Linked DNA regions of Homo sapiens. The protein of the gene in region 1 purifies or fractionates together with the protein of each later gene. This does not show direct contact. Each region holds a gene or a part of one and is shown in the gene's direction. Other genes may lie near its edges.

Evidence for each region.
Region 2: the proteins of MFSD11 (region 1) and SLC25A19 purify together in Homo sapiens (affinity purification with mass spectrometry; one large-scale study listed by BioGRID and IntAct). This does not show direct contact.
Region 3: the proteins of MFSD11 (region 1) and TMEM106B purify together in Homo sapiens (affinity purification with mass spectrometry; one large-scale study listed by BioGRID and IntAct). This does not show direct contact.
Region 4: the proteins of MFSD11 (region 1) and ABCA5 purify together in Homo sapiens (affinity purification with mass spectrometry; one large-scale study listed by BioGRID and IntAct). This does not show direct contact.
Region 5: the proteins of MFSD11 (region 1) and SMAP2 purify together in Homo sapiens (affinity purification with mass spectrometry; one large-scale study listed by BioGRID and IntAct). This does not show direct contact.
Region 6: the proteins of MFSD11 (region 1) and CC2D1A purify together in Homo sapiens (affinity purification with mass spectrometry; one large-scale study listed by BioGRID and IntAct). This does not show direct contact.
Region 7: the proteins of MFSD11 (region 1) and NISCH purify together in Homo sapiens (affinity purification with mass spectrometry; one large-scale study listed by BioGRID and IntAct). This does not show direct contact.

Annotation. Positions count from the first base shown.
Region 1 is NC_000017.11:76,769,119-76,772,618, forward strand, and holds part of MFSD11 (UNC93-like protein MFSD11), read left to right. Parts: intron 1-627; coding exon 628-753; intron 754-3,500.
Region 2 is NC_000017.11:75,279,434-75,282,933, reverse strand, and holds part of SLC25A19 (mitochondrial thiamine pyrophosphate carrier), read left to right. Parts: intron 1-3,500. UniProt on the Homo sapiens protein: Mitochondrial transporter mediating uptake of thiamine diphosphate into mitochondria. It is not clear if the antiporter activity is affected by the membrane potential or by the proton electrochemical gradient.
Region 3 is NC_000007.14:12,217,794-12,221,293, forward strand, and holds part of TMEM106B (transmembrane protein 106B), read left to right. Parts: intron 1-664; coding exon 665-728; intron 729-3,500. UniProt on the Homo sapiens protein: In neurons, involved in the transport of late endosomes/lysosomes. May be involved in dendrite morphogenesis and maintenance by regulating lysosomal trafficking.
Region 4 is NC_000017.11:69,317,134-69,320,633, reverse strand, and holds part of ABCA5 (cholesterol transporter ABCA5), read left to right. Parts: intron 1-3,500. UniProt on the Homo sapiens protein: Cholesterol efflux transporter in macrophages that is responsible for APOAI/high-density lipoproteins (HDL) formation at the plasma membrane under high cholesterol levels and participates in reverse cholesterol transport.
Region 5 is NC_000001.11:40,380,227-40,383,726, forward strand, and holds part of SMAP2 (stromal membrane-associated protein 2), read left to right. Parts: exon of another isoform or gene 1-2,398; intron 2,399-3,500.
Region 6 is NC_000019.10:13,909,201-13,912,700, forward strand, and holds part of CC2D1A (coiled-coil and C2 domain-containing protein 1A), read left to right. Parts: intron 1-622; coding exon 623-758; intron 759-3,122; coding exon 3,123-3,238; intron 3,239-3,327; coding exon 3,328-3,393; intron 3,394-3,500. UniProt on the Homo sapiens protein: Transcription factor that binds specifically to the DRE (dual repressor element) and represses HTR1A gene transcription in neuronal cells. The combination of calcium and ATP specifically inactivates the binding with FRE.
Region 7 is NC_000003.12:52,490,086-52,493,568, forward strand, and holds the end of NISCH (nischarin), read left to right. Parts: coding exon 1-146; intron 147-619; coding exon 620-748; intron 749-1,266; coding exon 1,267-1,428; intron 1,429-1,786; coding exon 1,787-2,397; 3' UTR 2,398-2,983; downstream 2,984-3,483. UniProt on the Homo sapiens protein: Acts either as the functional imidazoline-1 receptor (I1R) candidate or as a membrane-associated mediator of the I1R signaling.

The DNA of each region.
Region 1 (3,500 bases):
ATAGGTTTTAACATAAGGATATCTGTTCATTTGAGTTGTATACTTTTACCTGAAATATATGGCAGATGCCGTCTTGTGGTATCTTAATTTTAGCTGCTATAACAAATTTCCATAGACTGTGTGGCTTAAACAACAGACACTTATTTCTCACAGTTCTGGAGGCTGGGAAGTCTGAGAGCAGGATGCCACCATGCGCAGCTTGTGGTGTGGGCTGTTCCTGGTTGTAGACAGCTGCCTTCTTGCTGTGTCCTCCCATGGCAGAGAGCAGACAGGAAGCAAGCTTTTTGTTGTCTCTATTTATAAGGGCACTAATCACATCGAGAGGGCTCCACCCTCATGGCCTAATTGCCTCCAAAAGGCCCCATCTCCAAATACCATCATGTTTTGGGGAATTTGAGTTTCAATATGTGAATCTGGGGAGGACACAAACATTTAGTCCATAGCATGAAGCTAATTCCATTTCATCAGTTACATCACATTATGCTCTGCTTGGGGATTAATATTTCAGTCTCTGTGAGTTTTATGTGTTTTACTACGCAAGTATTCTTTCGTCAGATACTACTAGATGGGAAGATAAACAAAAATGTGAATATATAAATGACATCTGTTTTTTTTCTTTAACTAAAGGTCTGGAATTAACTTTCTTCTCTGGTGTATATGGAACCTGTATTGGTGCTACAAATAAATTTGGAGCAGAAGAGAAAAGCCTTATTGGACTTTCTGGCATTTTCATCGGCATTGGAGAAATTTTAGGTTGGTTTTAAAAAAAAGCGTTTGCATTAAAAATATCAGTTTATTATAGGTAAAATAGAAATTTTAAGTGTGCTTCACCTTTGTCCTTGAATTTCTGTTTTTTCTACTTATTTTTACCCAAACGTGTGTTTTTATTTTTCTATTATTGCTATTCTTTTTCTTTTTTTTTTTTTTTTTCCAGACAGAGTCTCGCTCTGTCGCCGAGGCTAGAGTTGGAGTGCAGTGGTGCGATCTCAGCTCACTGCAAGCTCCGCCTCCCGGGTTCACGCCATTCTTCTGCCTCAGCCTCCCGAGTAGCTGGGACTACAGGCGCCCGCCACTATGCCCGGCTAATTTTTTTGTATTTTTAGTAGAGACGGGGTTTCACCGCATTAGCCAGGATGGTCTCGATCTCCTGACCTCATGATCCGCCCACCTCGGCCTCCCAAAGTGCTGGGATTACAGGTGTGAGCCACCATGCCCGGCCTATTATTGCTATTCTAATATAACTAAATTATAAAACATTTGCAAAATAATTCACAGATGGAAACCCTGTGTAAGAAAACATACAATGTCTCCCGACTTTTCCTCCTAAAATATTTAGAAAGTCTTGGAATTCCTGACTCTGGTTCTCTGATTCCCTGTCACCAACTGGGTGTCCAACAGCTCAATCCTGTTCTAACACTTAACTCTCCAAAGTTAGTGTCAGATTCCACAGGTTTAAGGGTTCAGTCCTACAGACAGACAGTCTGGGTCCATAGGCCTCTCAGGCACACCTCTCTGACTTGGGTACAAATTTGGAGGTTCCCATAGCCCTCTTCCCCCTTCATGTTTGATAATTTGCTAGAGCAACTCACAGAACTCAGGAAAATGCTCTCCTGACTATTAGAGTTTATTATAAAGGATACAGATGAGCAGCCTGATGAGGAGGTGCAAAGGGTGGGGTCTGAAAGGGTCCCTAAGTGCAGGAGCCTCTGTCTCCATGGATTTTGGGCTCACCACTCCAGAAGCTCCTCCAACCCTGTTTAGGGGGATTTATGGAGATCCTGTTACATAGGCATGCTTGATTAAATCATTGGCCACATGGCCGGGTGCAGTGGCTCATTCACTTTGGGAGGCCGAGGTGGGAGGATCACTTGAGCCCAGGAGTTCGAGATCAGCCTGGACAACATAAGGAGACCCTGTCTCTAACAACAACAAAAAAACAATCATTGGCCATTGGTGATTGATTTAATCTCCAGCCTTCCCTCCCTGAAGTGGGAGTGAAAGGGGCCTGGAAGTTCTAGCCCTCAGGGCTTGGTCTTTCTGGGAACCAGCCTCATCCTGAAGCTCTATCCTAGGCCAACCCCTCTCTCCCCAAGGGTTGCCCCCTTAGCGTAAACTTCAGTATGGTTGAAAGTGGCTCTTTCTGAATAACTAATGTCCCTCGTATCACTGAGGAAATTCCAGGCCTTTTAGGATTTCTGTGCCAAGAACTAGCAGCAAAGACCAAATATGTATTTTTATTATGCTCCACGAGTTATTCTTTGTTCAACAAAGATTTGTTCAGCACTTGCAGTATATTGAATATTGTGTTAGATATGAGGAACTTCAACAAAGGTTTATTGTAATCTGTCATGTCAACAAAATAGACAAAAATACCTGCCCATATAGAGCTTATATTCTTGAGGAAGAATACAGACAATAAAAACAGAAATCTTTGTATGTCAGGCAGTGGTAAGCACCATGGGTAAAGCGGACTTTGGAGGGTTTGTTTGTTTTTGCTTTTTGGCCCCTGCCTTATTGCCAACACCTGGAGCAGGACAAGGTCTATATTGGGCATCCAATAAATGAGTTAAATGTGTTGAATGAATAATGAGAACATGGTTTCAGCAGAACTTAGTAACCAGTTGCGTGGTGGTGTGAGGAGAGATGTCTAGAATGATGACCAGGTTGATCAGAGTAACCTGGGCAGAGAGAATGCTGTAGGAGATGGGGTTTGAGGAAATCTGCTGAATGGGATTTTGAACACCTCTAAGTACCAGAGAGGCACCCAAGTAGAGAAGTGTCCAGTGGGAAATGCAGGCTGATGCTCAGGAGGGACTCGTGGGCTGGAGGTTGATGTTGGGAGTTATGGGTATGTAAATGGCGGGCGAAGCTTAGCCATGGTGAGTCAGTGCAGGGTTGTCTTCTCTGGTAAGTGCTTGTTTAGTGTCTGCCTGTAGACTACCTGGGAAGAAACTCACTTTCTGTAGGCAACCTGCTTTTTTGAAAAAAATAATTTCAAATTGATAAGAAATTGCGAAAATAGGCCAGGCACAGTGCTCACGCCTATAATTCTAGCACTTTGGGGAGCTGAGGTGGGCAGATCGCTTGAGTTCAGGAGTTTGAGACCAGCCTGGGCAACATGGCAAAACCCCATCTCTACAAAAAAAGTACAAAAAAATTAGCCAGGTGTAGTGGCGTATGCCTGTCGTCCCAGCTACTTGGGAGGCTGAAGTGGGAGGTTGCAGTGAATCCAGATCACACCACTGCACTCCAGCCTGGGCCACAGAGCAAGATTCTGTCTCAAAAAAACCAAAAAACCAAAACAAAAAAAGAAATTGCAAAAATAAAAATAGTACAATGAACATCTGAATATCCTTTAACAGGATTCATCTATTGTTAACGCTCTACCTTAGTAACTTTTTTTTTTTTTTTTTTTTAAGGACAGAGTCTTGCTCTGTTGCCCAGGCTGGGGTGCAGTGGCTCGATCTTGGCTCACTGCAACCTTCGCTGCTGGGATTCAA
Region 2 (3,500 bases), 1.5 Mb from region 1:
TTCTTTTATTTGATAAGCATGTTTTTTTTAAATATATGATTTTTATTTTTATTTTTATTTTTAGTTATTTATTTATTTTTTTTGAGACAGAGTCTCACTCTGTCGCCCGGGCTGGAGTGCAGTGGCACAGTCTCGGCTACTGCAAGCTCCGCCTCCTGGGTTCACGCCATTCTCCCTCCTCAGCCTCCCGAGTAGCTGGGACTACAGGTGCCCGCCACCACGCCCAGCTAATTTTTTGTATTTTTAGTAGAGACAGGGTTTCACCAGTCACAGGATGGTCTCGATCTCCTGACCTCGTGATCCGCCTGCCTCGGCCTCCCAAAGTACTGGGATTACAGGCGTGAGCCACCGTGCCCGACCTATTTTTATTTTTATTTTTTTCAAGAGACGGAGTCTCGCTCTTATTGCCCAGGCTGGAATGCAATGGCCAGATCTCGGCTCACTGCAACCTCTGCCTCCTGATTTCAAGCAGTTCTCCTGCCTCCGCCTCCCAGTAGCTGGGATTACAGGCGCCTGCCATCATGCCCAGCTATTTTTTGTACTTTTAGTAGAGACAGAGTTTCGCCATGTTAGCAGGCTGGTCTTGAACTCCTGATCTCAGGTGATCCACCCGCCTCGGCCTCCCAAAGTGCTAGGATTACAGGCGTGAGCCACCGCACCTGGCCTATATATATATTTTTTGAGACAGTGTCTTGTTTTGTTGCCTAGGCTGCAGTGCAGTGGCATGATCACTGCTCACTGAAGCCTCGACCTCCTGGGATCAAGTGATCCTTCTGCCTCAGCCTCCCCGGTAGCTGAGACTACACCTGGCTGAGTTTTGTATTTTTTTAGAGACGGGGTTTCGTCATGTTGCCCAGTCTGGTCTTGAACTCTTGAGCTCAAGCCGTCTGCCCGCCTCGGCCTCCCAAAATGCTGGGATTACAGGCATGAGCCACCGCACTCGGCAGAGGTTGAGTTCTTGTCCTTGCAGAAAGCAAAGCTGGGAGAGGTTCGGGTTTTCAGTTTGTCTGGCAGTCAGTTTGTAAAACCCATGACTGTGGGCAGCACTGTGCGGGGTGCTCTATGTCCCTGCCTCAAAGGAGCTCACAGCCTCCCTGGAAGACAGAACCTACTGCTATGAAACAGAACAAATAATTACCCAGCAGTGGGCTGGATCAAGGACTGCCCACTTGAGAATTTATTGCTGGATTATTATGAGAGCGTCTTTGTTTTTTTGTTTGTTTGGTTGGTTGGTTTTTTGAGACAGTCTCACTTTGTTGCTCAGGCTAGAGTGCAGTGGCGCAATCTCAGCTCACTGTAACCTCTGCCTCCTGGGTTCAAGCGATTCTCCTGTCTCAGCCTCCTGAGTAGCTGGGATTACAGGCACGTGATGCCATGTCCGGCTAATTTTTATATTTTTCGTAGAGACAGGGTTTCACCATGTCGGCCAGGCTGGTCTCAAACTCTTGACTTCAGGTGATCCCCTGGCCTCTGTCTCCCAAAGTGCTGGGATTCCAGGCATGAGCCACCACGCCCGGCCAATTGCGAGTGTCTTTGGTTTCCACAAAGAATGGGCTGGTGGAAATGGGATAGACTCGAGGAAGAATTTACTGAGTGAAAACAAGGGATTAAATCCTGAAATAGACCTCCCCACCATGATCTCTGTTTCCTGGACATATTTAAGAATAGCATCATATGTATGTGTGTCTGTGTGTTCTCAACCAAGAAAGAATAATTTTATTGTTATTATTTATATATATTTTTTGAGACAGGGTCTTGATCTGTCACCCAGGCTGGAGTACAATGGCTGCAATAGCTTGCTGCAGCTTCGAACTCCTGGGCTCAAGCAATCTTCCTGCCTCAACCTCTCAAGTAGCTAAGACCACAGGTGTGTGCCATCACACCTGACTAATTTTTTATTTTTTTATTTTTTGTAGGGGCAGGGTCTCATTATGTTGCTCAGGCTCAGGCTGGTCTTGAACTCCTGGTTTTTTTTTTTTTTTTTGGTTGTTGTTTGTTTGTTTTTGAGACGGAGTATGGCTCTGTCGCCCAGTCTGGAGGCACAATCTCAGCTCACTGTGACCGCCTCCCAGATTCAAGTGATTCTCATGCCTCAGCCTCCCAAGCAGCTGGGACTACAGGTCCGCTACCATGCCCAGCTAATTTTTTTTTCAGATGAAGTCTCACTCTGTCGCTGAGGCTGCAAGCTCCACCCCCAGTTTTAAGTGATTCTCCCGCCTCAGCCTCCCAAGTAGTTGGGATTACAGGCGCCCACCACCGCGCCTGGCTAATTTTTGTATTTTTAGTAGAGACGGGGTTTTGCCATGTTGGCCAGGCTGGTCTTGAACTCCTGACCTTGTGATCCACCCATCTCTGCCTCCCAAAGTGCTAAGATTACAGGCGTGAGCCACCGCGCCTGGCCATGCCTGGCTAATTTTTATATTTTTAGTAGAGATGGGATTTTGACATGTTGGCCAGGCTGGTCTGGAACTGCTGGCCTCAAGTGATCCGCCCACCTGAGCCTCCCAAAGTGCTGGGATTACAGGCATGAGTCACCATGCCTGGGCTTTTTTTCTTTATTTTTAAGGCAGAGTCTCACTCTGTCATCCAGGCTGAAGTATAGGGGTATGATTACAGCTCACTGCAGCCTCCACCTCCTGGGGTCAAGCAATCCTCCCACCTCAGCCTCCCAAGTAGCTGGGACCATAGGCACTTGGTACCACACCTGGCTAATTTTTGTATTTTTTGTAGAGATGGAGTTTCATTCACCATGTTGCCCAGGCTGTTCTCGAACTCCTAGGCTCAAGTGATCCTCCTGCCTTGGCTTCCCAAAGTGCTGTGATTACAAGGCTGAGCCACCAGACCTGGCTTATAAACAATAATTTTTCCACTGTCTCAACTCTGCTTTAGGATACTGTTAGTGGGAAAGGAAGGATAATTTGTTTAAGAGTTTGATGTGGGCAACATGGCTCTCTACAAAATACAAAAAAATTAGCCAGGCATGGTGGTGTGCACCTGTAGTCCCAGCTACTTGGAAGATTGAGTTGAGAGGATTGCTTGAGCCTGGAGAGTGAGCCATGATTGCACCATTGCACTCCAGCCCAAACAACAAAGTGAGATATCCTGTCTCAAAAAAAACAAAGAATTGGGCTGGGCGCGATGGCTCTCGCCTGTAATCCCAGCACTTTGGGAGGCCAAGGCGGGCGGATCACAAGGTCAGGAGATCGAGATCATCCTGGCCAACATGATGAAACCCCGTCTCTACTAAAAATACAAAAATTAGTTGGGCGTGGTGTCAGGTGCCTATAATCACAGCTACTCGGGGGTCTGAGGCAGGACAATCGCTTGAACCTGGGAGGTGGGGGCTGCAGTGAGCCAAGATTGTGCCTAGGCAACTCCAGCCTAGGCAACATAGCAAGACTTCGTCTCAAAAAAAAAAAAAAAAAAAGATAATAGCATATTACCTCTAGCTTCAACTATTGACATGTTGGATTTTAGATTCTAGAATGATCAGAGAATAT
Region 3 (3,500 bases), on another chromosome or scaffold:
AATAGTTAATATGATAAGCCAACTTCTAATAAGATTATAAAATTGGCATTTAAAGGTCCATTTATCCTTTAAACTTATGGATATAGCTCAACCCAAGAAAGAAATCACGGATTTTGAAGTGACTTTAACATGGATTGGGGTGAGACCTGAAAGGGCCCTGGAAGGCTCATTATGTAGGGGGCTCTTAAAGCTTGAGACTTCTACTTCAGAGGCCGGTTTTGGTTTTCAAGGGGGACAATGTCAGAAGCTCTGCAGTGATAGAGATGATAGAGGTTTCAGGAAAGGGCGATACCAATATGTTTCTTCTTTTATCATCCAGACAACCAAATCAGAGTCTTAATGGACACCAGTGAAGCTGAAGGAAGGCCTGGTAAATTTAGCTCTTCTGAAAGCTAGGACTTAGATTTTTTTTAGTGGAAGAAAAAGTAAGCCCTCATTTGTTATACTTTTTTTTTTTTTTTTTTAGCTAGACATTTACGTGTGAAAAAACACGCTGTCTTCTCTAGAACTTCTGCTGGATACTTTCTGAAGACTTAGCAATTTACTAAAGGAAAGAGATGAGTGCCAGATGATATTCTGGTCTTTCCAAACCAGATTGTGATGGGGAGCCATTATATTTTTAACTAATCATAGTAATTTCTGAACTTACTTCTTTCACATTTAGGGCAAGAAAACCAACTGGTGGCATTGATTCCATATAGTGATCAGAGATTAAGGCCAAGAAGAACGTAAGTGATTCTAAGAATATGGCAGTGTTTTATGTTTTATTTTTGTTTTTTGTATTTTTTCAAATTATGTATAATAACTAGTTAAAACTATTAAAAGAAAAAATGCTGTCACGTAGTTAAATTATGTCATCATATGCTTTGTATCCTTAAACAGACAAGAAAGGATTTTCTGGTTGGGGTAAGGTCTTGAAAGCAGTATGGTATCTTTATCTTCTCAAATCTATGGAAATAGATCTAGAATAGCAGTACAAACACACACACACATAAAATTTTCATTAAAAATTGGATAATAAGGTGTACTCCACAACCCCAGGATAAAAATTGGTATTTAAACATGGTGACAGCAGGGACCCCAACGGCCTTAGCAGCTGTGTGGAGGTTGTGAAGGAAAGCAAAAAGAGTTACTAAGGATCATATGAGCCCTGATACACAAAGCAAATACTTTGTCCCAAAAGAAGAGGACACCCAGCAAATATTTCCAAGAATAATCTGTAAAAATGACAAGATTTGCATGCTCTAGCTTGGAGAAAGTGCAAAAAGACCACAAGAGACCTGCTAAGTATCTTCGAGATCAGAAGGAACTGGACCATCCTAAATCCTCAGAGACGTTAGGAAATGTGGAAGCAAAAATTATTGCAAAAGGATACAAATACATATCCTCAAGAAAAAAGTTGAGTAGAATCCAATGTTTACAGGACAGGAGTTAGGAAGGAAGGAGAGAACAGATTGACATATTAGGGAGATCATCTCAAAACTGTGGAGATAAATATACATGGAGGCCATATTTTCAAATACTTTGTATATCAACAGAGGATGGAGCCCTTGAACAGTGAAGCTAGCAAAGCAACGCTGGCATATTCCATCACCGCAAATGAAACCTTTTCTTGAAAGTACAAAAGCTCTTTTCATTTAAACATGAGCACCTGGAAAGGATTGCAACAAAGCATTATACAAATATACTTTTTAAGAAGTTGAAGAAAGTAAGCTAAGCAAAATACTGACACTTTAATAAAGGCATGTGAAAAGAGCAGATGAACACTTTAACTTAATACTATAAAAGCTATAACAGGACAGCATAAGGCAGAAATTGAGAAGCTCAGAAATGAGATAACTAAACAATGGGAGTATGTGCAAAGAGAATTTACAGACCTCTGGAAAGAATTAGAAGAAAAACATTTCCACAAAACTGGAAGAACACAAGTACAAATACATTGGAAATACAGTCAGGGAAATAGAACATAAACGGGAGGAATGAAAACATCAACAACAAATTGTGTAAAGGATTTGAGAGAAAATGTCTAAAAGTCACATAAAGAAAACTAAACATGTATGTAATTGGAGCATCTGAAGAAGAAAACCAAAGGAATAGAACTGGACAAATGCAAAACATTAAATCAAGAACACAGGGACCTGCATATTGAAAAGACACCACAATCCTGAAAAAAATCAACCCAGGTTAGTGAAATTCTTGAACTTTAAGAAAACAACAAAACTCCTAAATACCTAGGCAAAAGGATCAATTAATTTATAAATGTTAGAAAATCAGATTGACATGCTGCTTCTTGACTACAGTGCCTCAAACGGATAAGCAATGGTGTGACATATTTAAATCAGGAAAATAAAACAAACCAAGGATTTTATAAACAGTCTGACCTTTTATTACAAAATGTATAGACAGATATGAATATGAAGGAAATTAGGATTAATCCCTTTATAACCTAAAAGTGGGAGAACTTTTTAAACTATGATTTTGAATGCAGAAAAGATAAATTTGACAGATGAACTTTTACAGGATGAAGACAAAACCTTAACTGAAGTCAAAATACAAATAGCAAACTAAGTAGTAAAGTTTACAAATCATATCACAGACAGAGGGCCAATATCCTTACTCTATAAAGAGCTTCAGAATTTGAGAAGAAAAAGGCCAACCTCCAAAGCAAAATAGAAGCTATGAACAGCTAGTTCACAAAAAAGAAATGCAAATGACCTTTAAACATTTGAAAAGATGTCCAATCTTGCTCATAATAGAAATGCAAATTAAAGCTACACTTAGATGCCATTTCTATCACAGTGGCAAAAATCCAAAATGTTGACAACATACTTTGTTGGCAGTAGTGACTGAAAACAAGTATATTCATTCCTTGCTAGTGAATGAAAATTTGGCATTATTTGCCAAATTACATCTGCATTTACTTTTTGGCTCAGAAATCCTACTTTGAAAAATTTATTCTCAGGATAGTTGTCAAATATAGTAAATGGTATTTGCGCAAATTATTTATTGTGCCAATGTTTGCAGAAGCAAACAACTGGAAACAATGTAAATACCAATAATAGAGGACTGATGGAATAAGATACTATGTGTACACAATGGTAAAATGGAAGGAGAACTATATTTTACCACAGTGTGATATTGACAATATGTTTTTCTTTGAAAACACCACACACTCAAACCCACACATATACACACAAAGAGACAAACAATGGGATGATAAACCAAATCTAATACAATTGGTTCACCTCTGAGTTTGGGAAGGAATTTGGAAGAGGGAGTGGATAAGCAAGTAAAGTGTGTGTGTGTGTGTGTGTGTGTCTGTATCTGTGTACATTTTTTTTACATAACTTAAAAGATGAAATCAAAAGTAACTGCCAAAAATTGAGACAAAAGGAAACATTATTCTAACTGTATATGAAGTTGGTGACACTAACAAAACTGAAATAATTATTTTAAGTGACTTGAAAACATTGTGCTGTGACTATAAATGTCGGGAGTTG
Region 4 (3,500 bases), 7.5 Mb from region 1:
ATGTTAAGAATGTTTCATTCTTTTCAATCAAACAGCTAAACCATGTATTTCATACTATGAAGAAAACCAGTGATCAGATGGGCTTAAGAGATTTTTTTTTTGTTTCAATAACTTGAATTGAAGCTCAAGATTATTGAAAGTTAATATTTTCATATGATTAGACTAAAGCTTTTGAGTATAAGAAAAATCAGATTGTTGAGGTCATTCATAATACTGAGTCATTGGTATAATTTGATGACAGAGTTAATACTTTCATCATTTTTTTCTCTCTGTCCTTTTGCAATTCATTCTGTAGGGTTTCTTTGACTCACGCTTCAATTTAGCTCACTAATTCGTCTTTAAATGAAGTTCACCCCATCTTTTAGTGCTTTTTTATTTCTATCAGTTTTTTATTTCATTTCTAAGTTCTGTAATTGCTTTTTTCTTAATTATCTTTCTCTTGTTCCAAGAATATGATATTCTCTATTACTCTTTTAAGGATATTAGTTATACTTTTATACACAATCGTGATCAATGTGTATAATTAGTTGCCATGTACAAGCCACCATTTTCAGCTTTTCATGTATTAATTCTTTTAGTCATTTTAACAACCCAAAGAGGTAGGTACTACTATTGTTGTATTTTACAGATAATAAAACTTAGGCGCAAAAACATTAAATAACTTGCCCAAGGTCTTGAAGTTAGTATGTAGCAGAGGCAGGATTCATGTTTAGTTGGTTTGGCTTCAGAGGTCATACTCTTAACCTATACTACTTTGGGCATTATTAGTTCTTATGTTTGTTAATTTTGGTGCCTTTGTAATATTGGTTAAGATGCTTTTTTGCAAGAAATAGAATCTGATACTGGTTAGCTTAAGTGAAAATGAAAATATATTGGGAAGATAATAGGACATTTCACATACTCCAAGGAAGAAAAATCGAGTTGTGAGCACAGTAGGTGTGGTACATTAGAAGAAAGCTTAGAGTAAGAATGTGTAAACTTTCTTTCTTAAATGTTGCCATTCATGTAATTCAGTTTCCTTGACTTCCATCCAGTCTGTGGGTCTCTTAGTTAATTCTGCCAAGAGAAATTTTAACTGACACAGCTCAAGAGTAGTGGTGGTGGTGGTGATGGTTTGTGTGCGTTGGGATGGTGTTTGGGGAGTTGGTTTAGTTTTGCTTTAAAAAGCTGTGATGAGAGGTGGAGTGGGTGGGCAGGTTTTTTAGACAAGGCCCTTAGAGACTCAACCTTGAGTTCAGGAAGCAGTTCTCAAAAAAACAAAAAATTCTGTGAATCCATCTACTCTATGAGTCTGTTATATAAAAATGAAGAGTTAAGCATCCAACATTCAAAGTGGATTAATAATTTAGTAGCATTCACAAAATCAATGTGTTTTGGCAAGTAACTTGAGAATGTTCATGCTGCATTAGGTTAGTGTTTCTATGTTTGTATTGTAGCAAATAATGCTTGAATGAGTACAGCTTTCTTCCTTCCTTCCCTCCTATTATCAACTCTTTGCTAAATGTGATATAACATAGTTGAGACTGTTAGAAGAATTTATTTATTGACCATTACAGAAGTTTATTTAACAGAGTCTAATATGAAAATATACATGACTTAATTTTTACATCATAGTAAAACAGGCCCTTTTGAGAGGGAGACATGGGTTTTTCTGCTGAACAGCCATTATTTATACTTGTTCCAAGGCTTCTAACATGATGATGCCATTACATCGCATTACCACCATTCCAATATTGTTCTGTTGCCCACTAGTTGCCATCTCCACACATTAATCTATCACAAGATTCATAAAGGGATCAAATCCCCACAATATTCCTTGGACATGTCTGCCACCATTTAATTTTCAATGATAACTTTTTGTCCATCAATTTTTTCAACTCGGGAGTGTAAGCTTTGCTCATGGTGTCTACTCCACAGGTTCACAGATGCCTTGGAATGGAATGCTGGAAGAATTTATTTTAATGTATCTTCTATTCTTGACTGCTTTTGTTTTGCTGTTTTTAATTTACTCATTTAGTATTTTTACAGTATGTCTAATTGTTTAATTGCTTTTTTTTTACTATGTAAGTAATACATAGAAAAAAAGCATGAAGAAAATAAAAGTTGTCTTTAATTCCATTGCTAATTTAAACAGTTCTTTCCAGTCTTCCTTCTGTGCATATAAAGAAGATGCTCATTTAAGCCAAACTTTAATTATATATATTTACTGGAAAAGACAAACTGCCTCTCAAAAATTATGGACCAGGCACGGTGGCTCACTCCTGTAATCCCAGCACTTTGGGAGGCAAAGGCAGATGGATCACCTGAGGTCAGAAGTTTGAGACCAGTCTGACCAACATGGTGAAATCCCATCTCTACTAAAAATACAAAAATTAGCTGAGCATGGTGGCAGGCGCCTGTAATCCCAGTTACTTGGGAGGCTGAGGTTGGAGAATTGCTTGAACCCAGGAGCCGAGACTGTGCCATTGCACTCCAGCCTGGACAAAAGAGTGAGACTCCATCTCAAAAAAAAAAAAAAATTGTGAGTTTTCTTTATTTAGGTGTAGACAGTCTTCCAGCTTGCAACAGATGGTCCTTGTTTTGGAGGAGAGTTATAGCAGTGGCCTCACTAGATAGGTTTATTTAAAACAAGGGCACAGCAATTTCTCTGGAAGGTTTAACAGGATTTTTTTGTTGTTGTTGTTATTTCCCCTGCTATCTTCTCAATACTTCTTAGTATGCAGAGATCCTAGGTTACTGGGTTGAGTGTATTTGAATAGGGGCAGTGGACATTGCAGTTGAGACTCTGACCACTTCTATTTTGAGTTCAGCTGGAATGAAACCTCTGAAGAATCGAGATAGCTCCAATAGAGGTCCACAGGCAGAAAGGATTTCAAGGATCTTCAAAGGGTAAATGTACCCTGGAAGAGGGATACTGGACCTGTGATAGGTACAATGATTTAGATCATTCAATGTTATTTTTTGAAGTAATTTATTAAGGTAAAATTTATTTCCAAGGTAAAACTCCTTACCTTGTAAGCAGTTTCTCCTCATTCTTTACTCTCCCTGGCCTCTGACAATCACCAGTTGGCATTCTGTCCCTACATTTATCTTTTCTGGAAGTTTCCTATAAAGGGAATCATATAACATTTGACATTTTTAGTCTGACTTTCACTTGACATAACGTTTTGTATGTTCATTTTAATTGTAGCATATAGCAGTACTTCATTCCTTTTTTTTTTTTTTTTTTTTTTTGAGACAGAGTCTTGCTCTGATGCCCAGGCTGGAATGCAGTGGTGCAATCTCAGCTCACTGCAACCTCTGCCTCCCAGATTTAAGCAATTCTGCCTCGGCTTCCTGAGTAGCTGGAGTTACAGGAACGTACCACCATGCCCAGCTAATTTTTGTATATTTTTTTTTAGTAGAGACGGGGTTTTGCCATGTTGGCCAAGCTGGTCTCAAACCCCTGACCTCAAGTGATCCACCCGCCTTGGCTTCCCAAAGTGCTGGGAATACAGGCA
Region 5 (3,500 bases), on another chromosome or scaffold:
TCTTTAAGCCAAAACCATTTCCTATATATGGAGTTCTGGCATTTTTGCAAATGTGCTTTATGGTACCCTTGAGGATGGTCTCTGGATGTTTCCCGATTTCAAACTTGTATGAAAGATTAGACCAGGGAATTTCTTTGTGTAGAAATTTTCTCATAGTTGTCTTAAGTTTTAACTCATGTACATTAATCTTTAGCTTTGCTTTACATTTGTTTTCTGTTGATAGCCAAGTCATTGCTTGTTAAATATTCCTTAGAAATGAACTTTCCTATCAATTTAAAATTATTTTAGCTGTATCTGTGGCACTTTTTTTTTTTCTCTTTTGAGATGGAGTCTCGCTCTGTTGCCCAGGCTGGAGTGCAGTGGTGTGGTCTTGGCTCACTGCAACCTCCACTTCCCGGGTTCAAGCCATTCTCCTGCCTCAGCCTCCCGAGTGGCTGGGATTAGAGACGCCTGCCACCACACCTGGCTAATATTTTGTATTTTTAGTAGAGAGGGGTTTCATCATGTTGGCCAGGCTGGTCTCGAACTCCTGACCTCAGGTGATCGCCCACCTTAGCCTCCCAAAGTGCTGGGATTATAGGTGTGAGCCGCCGCACCCAGCCTGTGGTACCTTTTAAAAAGTAAAAAATTCAATGGCGTGAAACAACAGAAGGAGTTCTGCTTCCATTTCTAGTTGTTAAACGCCTTTCTCTAGCCAAGATCACATATATTTCTGGTTTTTTATAGCTAGTGCACTATAACTCTGACAGTCATGGTTAGATTGATAGTTTTACTGAAAGTAATTTATCAAAATCCCCATTAGATTGTCTTTTAATGTCAACATATTAAACCTGTTCCCTGAGAGATACTTTCCTATTTGTTCTCCTTGCCCTTTAAATATCATTTGGTGCCAGTGAGATGAAGAATAGAAAATGTATATCTTTTAGGGGAACTTCGCAAGCCTGAGATCCCCCACTACATATAGTCATTCAGAAAATGTTTCTTAAGCACTTACTACCTACTTTTTCTCAGACATTGTACCGGGACATATAGATTAAAAGAAAGAGTCTTTAGTCTCAAGGATTTTACAGTCTAATGGGGAAGCAGATGTGTACAAATATAAATGATGCAATACAGAAATTATTGTGGCATGGTATACAGGGAGAAATGAAAGCATTGAAGAAGGCAAAGAAGTCTTCCTCGGGAAGTCATGGCTTCAAAGAGAAAAGTAGGCTGTGTCTTAAAGGATAAGTATGACTTTGCCAAGCTAATTTAGGGAACTTTGTATTCTAGGAAGAGGGAACAGAATGTGCAAAGCCTCGAAGGTGCACTGTTTTGTGTGTGTGTGTGTGCGTGTGGGGATTCTTTAGTATATTTTGACTGCATGTTGAGGAGTGATGAGGAGTAGAGTTTGACAGGTAGTCAGGATACTGTAAGGTTAAAACCTGAGCTCTGTGGTTGACTTGCTTCGTGGCATTGAGATTTTGAATATGCACTGTGCTTTAGACTTCCTGTTGTGTAAGAAGCCCATAGTATTGTAGGTCCACCTGCTATTCACATGGGGTTATAAATATTGCAGGCATGAAACGCTTCCTGATCGCTGAATAGTAAGAAAGGTCTGAGCATGGTGCCGATTAAATTCTCCATTGAAATGTACCTTTGTGGGTACATTAAATTATTTTAGCATAAGTCTAGTGAAGTGCCAGCAGTAGATACTATGTTATTTCTGGAGCTCTTGATGTTGATTTTTGAGGCTGAACATGCTCTTAGCCTCAAGCAGGTCATATTTGGAATACCTGATGTGTGCTCCTGGTTGCTCAGTGCTTAGGATGCATAAACAGGTAGCTGCAGTCTCATCTCTCAGTATATATACTTTTCAGCAAATCTTTTTTTTCTAGATAAATTGGAAAACTACCTTTTTTCTGCATTTTTCATCTGATGTCATTATGGTATGTAGGTGGCAGCTTTCTTGGGCACAGTTGTCTATATAACTGTTCATCACATGAGTCATTGTCTGTTTCTGTTCTTCTGCCTGAAAATTCCATCTTGGAAATCGTGTCATGCAATCGGTGACTGCGACATTCTACTTGTTATGTACACTGCCACTGGCTTTGTATGTTATGTTGATGGACTCTACCTGTGCTACAGTGAAGGGATAAAGTGACTTATTAAATTGAGTCAGACTCAGTTCCTCCAAATGGTATTTCCTGTAAAAATGATGCCAAGCAAGATTCTGCATAAAACATGCATATGCTTTACACTGTAAGCATACAGTGCCTACCTTTTGTTATTGTGTCTGCTTAAATCCTTACCACAGTTGTACTCCTGTTTGATCAAGTGGCCAGTTTAACTAGATACTAGCTTTGAAGAAGTTCTGTATTGGCCCCTGGAATGTGACAGTTCATACCACATTGAAAAGGTAAGAACCAAGTCTTTGTAGAGTAGAACACCTTAAAGTTAATCCACTTTTACCAAATTCCTCTATTGTTAAAGCAACAGTCCTATATTGGCTAATTTTTAAAATCATAATGTGCCACACTTTACACATCCCTAGAATGTAAGCTAGGGGGCAGGGGCCTATGCCTGTTTTGTTCACTGTAGTGTTCCCAGCACCTAGAACAGTGCTTGGCACAGACCAGGCTCTCAGTAAATATTTGTTTGAATGCATGAATTGATTTTATCATCTGTAAATGTTTTGTTTCATATTAGAAGAGACCTTTTCTAGGTTATCTGAATAATTGTTTTAATTCTTAGGAAAGCTATTAATTTTCTGAAAAATAAGTTTTAAAATATGTTTGGAAGGCCCTATGTCAGTCAAGGACCAGTCAGAGGAACAGAAGCCACTGTTGGTCTTATAAGCAGAGGGAATTTAAAATAGGGAGTAGGTTACAAGGCTGCTAGAAGAGCCAAGAAGCTGAACAGGGGCTGGTGAGGCACCCATTCGATTAGCAATGCCTGGGAACTACTATGCCTGCAAGGAAAATAGTGCACTGGTGTCACCAAGGGCTGGAAGTCCGAGTGGTCTGGTGTGAGCGGAAGCATGGAAAGAGGAGCAGTCTGGTGGCAGCTGGAAGTAGGCCGAGTGAGAGAGCGTATTACCCTGGCTGCTCCCTGCTCCTGCCTCTTATCCTCCTCAGTGCCTCCCATTGATGGAACTTATCCTGAAATCAGTTGGCAAAGGGAGCCTGGGAGATGTAGTTCCCTGTGATCAAGCGGAGCAAGGGAGGGATCCCAGCGCAAACAGGCAAAGACACAAAGGCACTGAATTCTCCAAGATGTAATTTCTTTCCCCTTATAGTATTTGAATTATTTTGGACAAGAGAACGGAAGGGTTTTCCGGCAGATATAACATTGCGTGCTTCTAAAGGATCTTGACTGTTGCTGAAACAATTATTAGTCCCAGGAAGTAATGTAACAACTCAGTCATAGTTTATATACTTAGGGGGTATGACTAGGCAAATTGGCTCCTGTATTGAATATGTATTTGACTGTTGGCTGCTGCCAGGAGCAACTTATCGTTT
Region 6 (3,500 bases), on another chromosome or scaffold:
TCTCTGCTAAAAATACAAAAAAAAAATTAGCCGGGCGTGGTGGCGGGCGCCTGTAGTCCCAGCTACTCGGGATGTTGAGGCAGGAGAATGGCATGAACCCCGGAGGCGGAGGTTGCAGTGAGCTGAGACTGCACCACTGCACTCCAGCCTGGGTGACAGAGCGAGACTCTGTGTCAAAAAAAAACAAAAAACAAAAAACTTTTTTTTTTTTTGTAGAGTTGGGGGTCTCACTGTATTGCCCAGGCTGGTCTGGAACTCCCAGACACAAGCCATCCTCTTGCCTTGGCCTCCCAAAGTGCTGGGATGACAGGCGTGAGCCACTGCGCCCAGCCAGGGGCCTGCTTTTCCCACTGAACTTGGCCCAGCAGCACATCATAAGTGTGGATTCAGATCAGAGAGCTGGGTCTCTTGCCCTTTGCCCCAGGTTGAACTGTGCCAGAGGGCCTGGCCTATCTTGGAACACCTGTTCTGGGCTTGTTCCAGCCTCCTGGCACTCCCCAGGGAAATGGCTTTCCCTGGGAGACCTTGTTTCCTTCCTCCCAAGGGGACTCTCTGGCCATCATGGCTGCCTCTAGCCATGTGGTGAACCAAAGGTCTGACTGAACCCTTGCTGTTCCCCTAGCTGGGCCTGCTGGTTGACCTCTCCCCAGATGGCCTGATGATCCCTGAGGACGGGGCTAACGATGAAGAACTGGAGGCTGAGTTCTTGGCTTTGGTCGGGGGCCAGCCCCCAGCCCTGGAGAAGCTCAAAGGCAAAGGTGAGATGGTTAACACACCCTCAGAACATTTTCTGATCTCCTGCAAGTGGTTCGGGCGCAGAACTGGGGGCACTGGGTAGGTAGGGGAAAGAAGACAGAGAAGACCCCTGTTCTCCTGGAGCCAATGATCTGGGTAAGAGAGTCAAGATCGACTCTGAGGCCGGGCACGGTGGCTCACGCCTGTAATCCCAGCACTTTGGGAGGCCGAGGCAGGCAGATCATGAGGTCAGGAGATTGAGACCATCCCGGCTAACACGGTGAAACTCTGTCTCTACTAAAAATACAAAAAAAAAAAAAAAATTAGCCGGGCGTGGTGGCGGGCGCCTGTAGTCCCAGCTACTCAGGAGGCTGAGGCAGAAGAATGGCGTGAACCAGGGAGGCGGAGCTTGCAGTGAGCCGAGATCGCACCACTGCGCTACAGCCTGGGCGACAGAGCAAGACTCCGTCTCAAAAAAAAAAAAAAAAAAAAAAAGATCAAGTCTGGACCGAGACTGAGAGTTGGAATCCGAGCTCTGCCACTTACTGGTTATGTGACTTGATGAGTCACATCATGTGCTTTGGCCTCAGTTTCACCATCTGTAAAACTGGAATAATAACCATGTTATAGGAGTTAATCTGGAGTCCATAAGTATTTCACCCAGGGCCCCCTCACACACAATAAGCTCATGTCAGCCAGGCACATTGGCTCATGCATGTAATCCCAGCACTCTGGGAGGCCAAGGTGGACAGATCACTTGGGGCCAGGAGTTCGAGACCAGCCTGGCCAACATGGTGAAACCCTGTCTTTACTAAAAATACAAAAATTAGCCAAGCTTGGTGGCGAACACCTGTAATCCCAGCTACTTGGGAGGCTGAGGCATGAGAATCGCTTGAATCCAGGAGGCAGCAGTTGCAGTGGGCAGAGATTGCGCCACTGCACTCCAGCCTGGGTGACAGAGCAAGATCCTGTTTCCAAAAAACAAAAAAGAGAGAAGCTTCATTCAGGCATGAACTACTGTGCTGTTGGCTGTGAATTCAAAGTTAATGAATGAACGATATCTATTCAGGAAGGTGTCTTCAAACAGAAACACACATAGAGCAAGGTTGTGTATTGATCAGTTGATTAAAATTTTGTGACCAGAGCTGGGTGTGGTGGTGCATGCCTGTAATCCCAGCTACTCGGGAGGCTGAGGCAGGAAGATCACTTGAGGCCAAGAGTTTGAGGCTGCAGTGAGCTCTGATTGGGCCACTGCACTCCAGCCTGGGTGACAGAGCAAGATCCTGTCTCCAAAAAAGGTTATGACTGGAGATTCACAGGAACCTAAGCTTAAATTTCCCCTAGGAGCAACAGTCTTATAGTCATTAATTTAGTCTTCAAAGCAGCTTTATAGAATGTAACATAACTAATAACAAGATATTGGCAATATGCTATTCTAAGAGCTTCATTGACCTTCTCTGCTCCAACCTACCTATGAAGGAGGAACTGTTGTCATCCCCGTGTCACAGAGGGAGAAACTGAGGCTCAGAGAGGTGACATCACTTGCCGAAGTTCTCACAGAGAGAAAGTTGCAGAGCTGGGGTTTTTTTTGTTGTTGTTGTGTGTGTGTGTTTTTTTTTTTTTTTTTGGAGACAAACCCTTGCTCTGTTGCCCAGGCTGCAGTGCAGTGGCGCAATCTCAGCTCACTGCGACCTCTGCCTCCTGGGCTTAAGTGATTCTCCTGCCTCAGCCTCTTTAGCAGCGGGGATTACACGCCACCATGCCCAGCTAATTTTTTTTTTTTTTTTTTTTTTTTTTTGAGACGGAGTCTCGCTCTGTCGCCCAGGCTGGAGTACAGTGGCGCGATCTTGGCTCACCGCAAGCTCCGCCTCCTAGGTTCACGCCATTCCCCTGCCTCAGGCTCCCGAGTAGCTGGGACCACAGGCGCCCGCCAGCATGCCTGGCTAATTTTTTGTATTTGTAGTAGAGACGGGGTTTCACCGTGTTAGCCAGGATGGTCTCGATCTCCTGACCTTGTGATCCACCCGCCTCGGCCTCCCAAAGTGCTGGGGTTACAGGCGTGAGCCACTGCGCCCAGCCTAATTTTTGTATTTTTAGTAGAGACAGGGTTTCACCATGTTGGCCAGGCTGGTCTTGAACGCCTGACTTCAAGTGATCCTTCTGCCTCGGCCTCCCAAAGTGCTGGGATTATAGGCGTGAGTCACTGTGCCCGGTCTGCAGAGCTGGGTTTTGAATTCAGGTAGCCAGGCCCCAGACCTGAGGCTGAATAAGGAAGAGATGAAATGGGGAAGTCAGCGAGAAGTGGGATCACCTAGCGTGTCCAGGATGGGAAATGGGGGCTCTTGGTGTACGACCCTGGTCCACCTGGGGCATCCCCCTACCGCCAGGTCCCTTGCCGATGGAGGCCATTGAGAAGATGGCCAGCCTGTGCATGAGAGACCCGGATGAGGATGAGGAGGAGGGGACGGATGAGGACGACTTGGAGGCTGATGATGACCTGCTGGTGAGCACTGAGGGCGGGGTGGGGGCTCTGATCCGGTTGCCCCCATCCAGCAGGCCCTTATATCCTGCCCTGGCTGTGTGTCCCTGCAGGCGGAGCTAAATGAGGTCCTTGGAGAGGAGCAGAAGGCTTCAGAGACCCCACCTCCTGTGGCCCAGGTACAGTTTGGATGACTCCACTCCCTTGAACCACAACCCAACGGACAGCCCGGGGTTCAAGACCTAGCCTTTTTTATGAGATGGAGTCTTGCTGTGTCACCCAGGCT
Region 7 (3,483 bases), on another chromosome or scaffold:
GGAGCTGAGGCACCTCATGTGGTCCTCGGTGGTGTTCTACCAGACCCCAGGGCTGGAGGTGACTGCCTGCGTGCTGCTCTCCACCAAGGCTGTGTACTTTGTGCTCCACGACGGCCTCCGCCGCTACTTCTCAGAGCCACTGCAGGGTAGGCACAGGGCCTGCTGGGGCTCAGGAGCTTGGAGTGTGTGGTTGGGGCAGGCCTGGGGGGTCATTCTCTGGAGCCAGCTGTGTGGCTTCAGGCAGCAGTCAGCGACTTGGCTGCAGTGGGCTGAGAGTTCCTTGTCTGAGGAAGGGAGCTGTCATGAGGGAGGGGTCCATGGCCAGATGTGAACGCAGAATGCACTGAGCCAGGGCCTGGTGACTGCTTGGGAACAGCCAGTGATGAGAAGGGGTTAGGCAGCCTTTGCCCCTGGGGCTGCACAGGAAGCCCTAGCCAGCGACCTGGTGACTCCCCTGAGCTGGAAGAGGCTCCGACTCCAGAGGGCATTGCCTATGGGGCTTTGCACGGGTGGAAGCCAGGCCAGCCAAGAGGACCTGTTCCTGCTGGATGTGCTGCACACCTAGGAACCTTGTGCTTGCCTGCCACCGCCTCCCTCTGTCCCTTTCTCCATCACACAGATTTCTGGCATCAGAAAAACACCGACTACAACAACAGCCCTTTCCACATCTCCCAGTGCTTCGTGCTAAAGCTTAGTGACCTGCAGTCAGTCAATGTGGGGCTTTTCGACCAGCATTTCCGGCTGACGGGTGGGTGACCCTCTGTGCTTTGTCCTATTTCGGGTGAAGGCCAGCATCACCAGTGGGCTTCCACCTTCCGTACGTGGGTGGGTTATCATAGACAGTTATCTCTGTGCTCAAGAGCCACTTCTTAACCGGGGTGGGAGGAAGCAGCTTCAGGAACTGCTGAGAGAGCAGAACTCACGCTCCAGGGCTCAGAGCAGGAGGTAGGGTGTGCGGCAAGCGCTGGCCCGGACAGAAGCAGAGTGGGCCCTGGTCTCGGGCAGGATGTTTCTGACTCACATTTCCTGAGGAGAGAAAGCTAAGCTCTTTGCCTAATGTCTCTGTCTCCCCTTCCAGAAAAATGCCTCAGCTCTTCCGGCCTGAAGGAATGGCCTCCTCCCGGGCCCCATGATTCTTTCCTGTGTGGGCCCTCCTGGCCCTGGCCTCTGGGCTGAGGCTTGCTAGGGACTCGGGGTGGCTCTAAGGGGCAGGGATAGGGCTGGGGAGCGCCGGCCTGTGGCCCTGACCAGCCCCTTCTCGTGCAGGTTCCACCCCGATGCAGGTGGTCACGTGCTTGACGCGGGACAGCTACCTGACGCACTGCTTCCTCCAGCACCTCATGGTCGTGCTGTCCTCTCTGGAACGCACGCCCTCGCCGGAGCCTGTTGACAAGGACTTCTACTCCGAGTTTGGGAACAAGACCACAGGTACCCCTGTCTAGCTCAGGCTGCAGACAGGCTGCCTGGACAGACGTCATGGGCCCCAGGGTGGCTCTCTGTGCCCCAGAACCCTCTCTGCCTCTATGTCTCTCTTTTCTCACTTAGCTGGCCAGGGTTTTATGTGGGGCTTTTCGATGGCAGAGTCTCCACTCCAGCAGTCCCTCAACCATCTGGCAGACACATCTCCAGTGCCTGCTTTGGGCTCCTGGCCTGTGGGCCCCACACTTGGAGCATCCTCTCCTGCCTGTCTCATGCCGGGGTCTCTCGGTTGGCTTGGGGCCCTTGGTGCTCCCAGCCCCACCAGGGGCCGGTTCCAGGCTATAGCCCAGGTGGCATCTCTCTGCAGGGAAGATGGAGAACTACGAGCTGATCCACTCTAGTCGCGTCAAGTTTACCTACCCCAGTGAGGAGGAGATTGGGGACCTGACGTTCACTGTGGCCCAAAAGATGGCTGAGCCAGAGAAGGCCCCAGCCCTCAGCATCCTGCTGTACGTGCAGGCCTTCCAGGTGGGCATGCCACCCCCTGGGTGCTGCAGGGGCCCCCTGCGCCCCAAGACACTCCTGCTCACCAGCTCCGAGATCTTCCTCCTGGATGAGGACTGTGTCCACTACCCACTGCCCGAGTTTGCCAAAGAGCCGCCGCAGAGAGACAGGTACCGGCTGGACGATGGCCGCCGCGTCCGGGACCTGGACCGAGTGCTCATGGGCTACCAGACCTACCCGCAGGCCCTCACCCTCGTCTTCGATGACGTGCAAGGTCATGACCTCATGGGCAGTGTCACCCTGGACCACTTTGGGGAGGTGCCAGGTGGCCCGGCTAGAGCCAGCCAGGGCCGTGAAGTCCAGTGGCAGGTGTTTGTCCCCAGTGCTGAGAGCAGAGAGAAGCTCATCTCGCTGTTGGCTCGCCAGTGGGAGGCCCTGTGTGGCCGTGAGCTGCCTGTCGAGCTCACCGGCTAGCCCAGGCCACAGCCAGCCTGTCGTGTCCAGCCTGACGCCTACTGGGGCAGGGCAGCAGGCTTTTGTGTTCTCTAAAAATGTTTTATCCTCCCTTTGGTACCTTAATTTGACTGTCCTCGCAGAGAATGTGAACATGTGTGTGTGTTGTGTTAATTCTTTCTCATGTTGGGAGTGAGAATGCCGGGCCCCTCAGGGCTGTCGGTGTGCTGTCAGCCTCCCACAGGTGGTACAGCCGTGCACACCAGTGTCGTGTCTGCTGTTGTGGGACCGTTGTTAACACGTGACACTGTGGGTCTGACTTTCTCTTCTACACGTCCTTTCCTGAAGTGTCGAGTCCAGTCCTTTGTTGCTGTTGCTGTTGCTGTTGCTGTTGCTGTTGCTGTTGGCATCTTGCTGCTAATCCTGAGGCTGGTAGCAGAATGCACATTGGAAGCTCCCACCCCATATTGTTCTTCAAAGTGGAGGTCTCCCCTGATCCAGACAAGTGGGAGAGCCCGTGGGGGCAGGGGACCTGGAGCTGCCAGCACCAAGCGTGATTCCTGCTGCCTGTATTCTCTATTCCAATAAAGCAGAGTTTGACACCGTCTGCATCTTCTAAACCAAGGGTCACTGGGATCCCAGCAGGGCTTCCGTCCAGGGCGTGGTCACATGGGGGAGGGAGGGTGCCCTGGAGACAGGAGGGTGAGGGGTTGGGGGAAAGGAAGGAGCAGCCCTCCAGGAGCCAGATGCTTCTTGGAACATGGGAGGCATGACAGGGCCATGGCCTCTCTGGACAGTGCCATGCTGGGCTGTGGCTAAACCATGAGCGCAGGGCAAACAAGAAACTCCTCAGGGCACCCCTGACACACCAGCCGCTGCCCCTCTGCCTGGGTGCGGGGCATGCCACCCTCTTCAGGCTGTCCTGCAGGTCTTATGTGTCAGTCACCCCTGGGCCCAACCCCACCTGTTTCACAACCCCTGTTGAGAGTGGGGGAGGGGCGAGGAGGACAGAGAGATCCCAGAGTCTGAGGTGGCTGGTGGGGGCCGGGGCATCTCACCAAGGTGGCCCTTGAATGGCAGCAGGGGAGGTCTGTGGGGAGGTGGACC